Regions from separate parts of the Homo sapiens genome. Here region 2 is linked to region 1. Evidence: fine-mapped expression QTL. A gene starts in region 1. The other region holds a variant in brackets. All regions are shown on one strand. Distances are between the middles of the regions. Region 1 holds the start of POLM (DNA polymerase mu). Region 2 overlaps DBNL (drebrin like).

Evidence for each region.
Region 2: its variant is fine-mapped to the expression of POLM in whole blood (TOPMed, PIP 0.94).

What each region holds. Positions count from the first base shown.
Region 1 is chr7:44,081,584-44,084,306 of GRCh38, forward strand. It overlaps POLM (DNA polymerase mu), which reads right to left and starts at 947. Exons shown (of 11, transcript NM_013284.4): 1 at 668-947. The coding sequence starts at 855. RefSeq lists an enhancer at 721-1,221 and a silencer at 933-1,512.
Region 2 is chr7:44,052,710-44,055,732 of GRCh38, forward strand. It overlaps DBNL (drebrin like), which reads left to right. Exons shown (of 13, transcript NM_001014436.3): 4 at 158-232. Among named protein-coding and RNA genes, the nearest start is that of MIR6837, 2.5 kb to the left of the region's middle. The variant G/A (reference allele first, on the strand shown) is at 1,764.

The DNA.
Region 1 (2,723 bases):
ATTTTTTCTTCTCTTGGTTCCCTTCCTACAAGAGCTTCTCAGTCGTGTTATTTACTCAGGCCTGAGGACAGAGGAGCCTGCGGGCTCCGGGCCTCTTGAGAAGTCAGTCTCGCTCACAGGTGGGACATAGCCCAGGCAGAAGGGCTGTTAGCAAATACGACTTTTTTTTTTTTTTTTTTTGAGACAGAGTCTCACTCTGTCGCCCAGGCTGGAGTGCAGTGGCGCGATCTCGGCTCACTGCAAGCTCCGCCTCCCAGGTTCATGCCATTCTCCTGCCTCAGCCTCCCGAGTAGCTGGGACTACAGGTGCCCGCCACCACCTCCGGTTAATTTTTTGTATTTTTAGTAGAGACGGGGTTTCACCGTGTTAGCCAGGATGGTCTCGATCTCCTGACCTCGTGATCTGCCCGCCTCGGCCTCCCAAAGTGCTGGGATTACAGGCGTGAGCCACCGCGCCCGGCCTACTGCTTATTAATTACCCCTGACCTCTGGTTTTGATTCTCGCAGTGATCCTTTAAAACACGCCTCGCCCTAATTAATAGCACCCTTTACAGAAGAGGAGATGGAGGCTCAGGGAAAGGTCACAAGACCACGAAGTGCCACTGCAAACTTAGAATCCAAAACCAGAAGTGCCATGGAAGCCCTCGCCGCGCCGCGCCGCCCCGCACCTGCAGGCGTCAAGGACGCGGAAGCCTTTGGAGCGCGCCAGGCCTGTGAGGAAGGCCCGGCGGCTGCGACCCATGCGAGGCTCGACCAGGTAGATGGCGACTCCCGGGAAGCGCGTCGAGGGCGGCGTGGAGGAAGCGGCATCGCCGCTAGGGGACCCGACCCGCGCTCGCCGCCGTTTGGGGAGCATTGGGACGACAGCCTCCAGCAGCGCGGAGCGAACGCAGAGGGAAACTCCGAGCGAGACGGAAGGAAGCCCCAGTGAGGCTGACGGAAGCGGGTGGGCGGGCGGGCGGCCGCCGGCTGGAAGAGGACGTGGCCCCGCCCTATGCAAATGAGGCCTCTCCGTGGGGCTCGCTACTTGGGCCAGTCGGAGCGCTGGGGAGGGTCCGGGCTCCTACAGGATTGGGTGTCCCGGCCGCTCCGGAAGACCCGCCTCCATGCAAATAACGGCAGAGGACCCGCCTTTTATTTAAATTAATGTCTCGGAAAGCGCTGTTCGGCCCCATTGGCCTCCGGGAGGAGAGGCTGGGCTGGAGCGGGGCGGGGAGGGTGTTGGAGGGGGTGGAGGAGGCGGGGTCAAGGGGGCGTCCCCGGCTAGGGAGGGTGAACTGGGACCTAGGCCCGGGCGGAGCGGGGTGGGCTGTGTCCTTGGCGCCGGGGCTGGGTCTAGGGTTGAGCCGGCGGCTCGGGGCGGACGCGTGCGGGCTGTGCCCGATCCCTCTGCGCTCGGGACTGTCACACGGAAGCCGGCGGGCGCAGGACCGACACGCGGGTTTCCAATGCGCTGGTGGGGCGGTCGCTTCAAACACGCGGGAAGATTTTTCAGTCGAATGGCATTAGGACAACTGGCAGGCCATTTGGAAAAATAGAAGTTGGTGCCCTTCCTCATTCCTTAACACCAAAATAAATTCCAGATGGGTCAAACATTTCCATCTAAAAAGGAAACCAACAACGTACTGGAAAAAAGTCGGTGAATGTTTTTATGATCTAAATATCACAATAAACTTGGAAACACTAAAGGAAAAGAATGATAAACTGGACTACAGACAAATTTTAAATCTGATTAAAAATTAGAGTCAGAAGATAAACTGGGATAAAGTGTGAGATATTTTGGAATTAAGATTATCTCATGATAATCTTATCAAATTGTCCATAGATAAAAAGACAATAATTTAATAGAAAAATTAGCAAAAAAACTCACGTAGATGATTCTTAGAAGAAATCCTGGTCAATAAATTTATGACCAGAGTGCCCAACCTGTCCAGTCGTTACAGAATACCTAAATGAGAATATCTTCAGTTGTGGGTTTATCAAACATTCAAAAAAATTGACCACACATGTTGAAGGTGCGAGGTAATTGGCAATCCATAGGAAGGACTGTGGAAGCCAATGTGGCAACCACATCCAACAAAATGAAAACAAAATAATACACATTGATCCAGCAATTCCTTTCCCAAGATTGGGATTGCATTGAATCTATAGATCAAGCTGGGGAAATCTGATGTCTTGATAATATCAAGTCTTCTGTCTATCTTATTTAGATATACTCCATTTGTAACCTCTGTTACGGTAGTGTGGCACTGCTCAGCCTAACTGATGGGACACCAGATCAGATGCAACCCCCTTCCACATGCCTCTCCTCATCACTGCCCCATCGTCCTCAGTCTTGAGCCCCAGACTCCTTGAGCACCTATCCTTTTTCTTTGGCTCCTCTCTGACATCTTTAGTGGGCTGGCTCTTCCCCATCTCTGCACTCAGAGCACAGGGCTGAGGGGAGTGGGGGAGATGGCTCAGCCCAGGCATCCTCTTGACCTCCTACACCATCTCCCAGCCTCCTAATTCATCTACCTCTTCAGGGCTGTAGAGCTTCCTGGGCCTCAGGACCCACATACAGAAGCCAGGAGGCCTGCGTATGGTCCCTCTCTCCCCATCCTCCCCTTGTGCCAGCAGGGATGGGCAGGCTCTAAGGGTCTTCGTCTGTGGATCTGGCTCCTACCCTTCTCAAGGAGGAGGCTCTGCCCAAATATCCCCTGAGCAGATCCCTCTAGCTGTCTA
Region 2 (3,023 bases), 29 kb before region 1:
AACTTACCTCACCCATGTGATGCAGTCAGAAGAATAGGTTCTGCTTTGGGGGTTGCAGTTTTCTCTTTTCTGGGACACAGGGTAGATGTTGGGTCCCCAGGGAAGGGAAGTGGCTTTGGGGGAGGCCTGGGTCAACCTGGGCATCCTTGTGTTGCAGACAGGCGAGGGCGTGAACGATGTGCGGAAGGGAGCCTGTGCCAGCCACGTCAGCACCATGGCCAGCTTCCTGAAGGTAAGGCCAGGTGAGGCCCGCTTCACTGGGAACAGGCCTCACAGGCTTGAGGTCTCGCAGGTTCCTGGGTGCGAGCAAGTGGGAATCAGAACTGGAGTTGGGAGTGTGCTCATAGCTAATGCTCTCTGCCTGCCTTTGAGGGCATGACCAGAGGCTGCTTCACTCTCGGTCAGTGAGTGCATGGGAGGTCAGGATGTTGCCAGGGCCACCTACAGGCCTGCCTCAGTGGGGCAGGATAAAGGACTATGCTGGAGCTGGTGCCGTGAGAAGGGTGGGCCCTGGTTCTGTTTTGTTTTATGATCCCTCTAAACAGTTTAGTAATACCGTCAGGATTTGGAGGAAGGGGAGAGTGCCCACCATCTTAGCACGCATGTGCCCTTTTGATGCATTCCTTTCCAGCCCCCTCTACATGGAGTTATGTCAGTCCTATAATAGAACCTTTTTAAATTTTAAAAACTATTTGTAACAAAAGCATTTGTTGGTCACTTGTCAGGTAACTTTTTGCATTTCTCTGGCAAAGGAGACTCAGAATTTTGATTTCTCGTTCTGCCAACATTTCTTCAGCTATACCTCAGTTTCCATCTAGGAGCTGATAAGAGAATTCCCAGCTTATCGATATACAGGTTTGAGTATCCTTTATCTGAAATGCTTAGGACCAGAAATGTTTTGGATTTTTTCAGATTTGGGAATGTTTTCAGTTCAGCATCCAAAATCCGAAATTCTCCAGAATCTGAATTTTTTTTTTTTTTTTTTGAGACTGAGTCTCGCTCCGTTGCCCAGGCTGGAGTGCAGTGGCGTGATCTTGGCTCACTGCAAGCTCCGCCTCCCGGGTTCACACCATTCTTCTGCCTCAGCCTCCCGATTAGCTGGGACTGCAGGCACCCGCCACCACGCCCAGCTAATTTTTTGTATTTTTAGTAGAGACGGGGTTTCACTGTGTTAGCCAGGATGGTCTCGATCTCCTGACCTCGTGATTTGCCCGCCTTGGCCTCCCAAAGTGCTAGGATTACAGGCGTGAACCACCACGCCCAGCCCAGAATCTGAGATTTTTTGAGTGCTGACATAATGCTTAAAGGAAATGTTCATTGGAGCAGTTCAGATTTTGGAATTTTAGGTAAGGGATGCTCAACCTGTATAGCAACAGTGAATGACGTCATGGGTCTGGCTTCTTATGAAGAAATCATTGGCTTACTTTTTGTAGAAAACATGCATGGCATTCTTTTATCAGAGTTTTTTTTAATTGTTTTGTTTTTTGTTTGTTTGTTTGTTTTGAGACAGTCTCACTCTGTCACCCAGGCTGGAACGCAGTGGCACGATCTCGGCTCACTGCAACCTCTGCCTCCCAGGTTCAAGTGATTTTCCTGCCTCAGCCTCCTGAGTAGTTGGGATTACAGGTGCCTGCCACCATGCCCGGCTAAGTTTTCTATTTTTAGTAGAGATGGTGTTTCCCTGTGTTGGCCAGGCTGGTCTGGAATCCCTGAGCTCAAGTGATCTGCCCTCTTCAGCTTCCCAAAGTGCTGGGATTACAGGC[G/A]AGAGCCACCGCACCTGGCCCAGAGTTTTTATAAATTGATATATAATAGTTGTACATATTTTTTGCATACATGTCATATTTTGATACCTGTATACAATGTATACGATGAATCAGGGTAATTAGCATGTTCATCACCTCAAACATTTATCTTTTCTTTGTGTTGGGAACATTACAATTTTTCTCTTCTAGCTAATTTGAAATACACAAAATTATTGTTAACTATAATTTCCCTTCTGTACTATTGAATACTAGAATTTATTCCTTCTATTTAACTGTACTTTTGTACCTGTTAAGCAACTTCTCTTCATTTTCTCTCCCCCATGCCCTTCCCAACCCCTGGTAACCAGCATTCTACTCTCTCCCTCCATGATACCCACTTTTTTAGCTCCCACATGAGTGAGAACATGCAATACTTGTCTTCTGTGCCTGGCTTATTTCCCTTAACATCATGACCTCCAGTTCCATCCATGTTGCTGCAAATGACAGGATGCCATTCTGTTTTATGGCTGAATAATATTCCCTCATGTTTATATACTAAATTTTCTTTACCCTTTCATCCATTGATGGACGTTTTGGTTGATTCCGTATCTTGGCTATTGTTAATAGCGCTGAACTTCAGAGTTGGATATATCCCCAGCAGCTGGATTGCTAGATCATATGGTAGTTCTGCTTTTAGTAGGACTAAAATACTGTTTTAAAAACCATACTGTTGTCTAGGCGCGATGGCTCACGCCTGTAATCCCAGCAGTTTGGGAGGCCAAGGTGAACAGATTACCTGAGGTCAGGAGTTCAAGACCAGCCTGGCCAACATGGTGAAACCCCGTCTCTACTAAAAAAATACAACAATTAGCCAGGTGTGGTGGCGGGCACCTGTAATCCCAGCTACTCAGGAAGCTGAGGCAGAGAATCTCTTGAACCTGGGAGGTGGAGGTTGCAGTGAGCCGAGATTGTCCACTGCACTCCAGCCTGGGCAACAGAGTAAGACTCTGTCTCAGAAAAAAACCCAAAAAACCATACTGTTTTTATAATGGCTGTACTACTTTACATTCCTACCAACAGTGTATAAGAATTTCCCTTTCTCCACATCCTTGCTAGCATTTATTTTTTATGTTTTTTATAATAGCCATTCTAACTGTGGTGAGATGATAGCCCGTTATGGTTTTGGTTTGCATTTCCCTGATGATGGTTAGTGATGTTGAGCATTTTTTTGTATGTAGTTAGCCATGCGTATATCATCTTTCGAGAAATATCTGTTAAGGT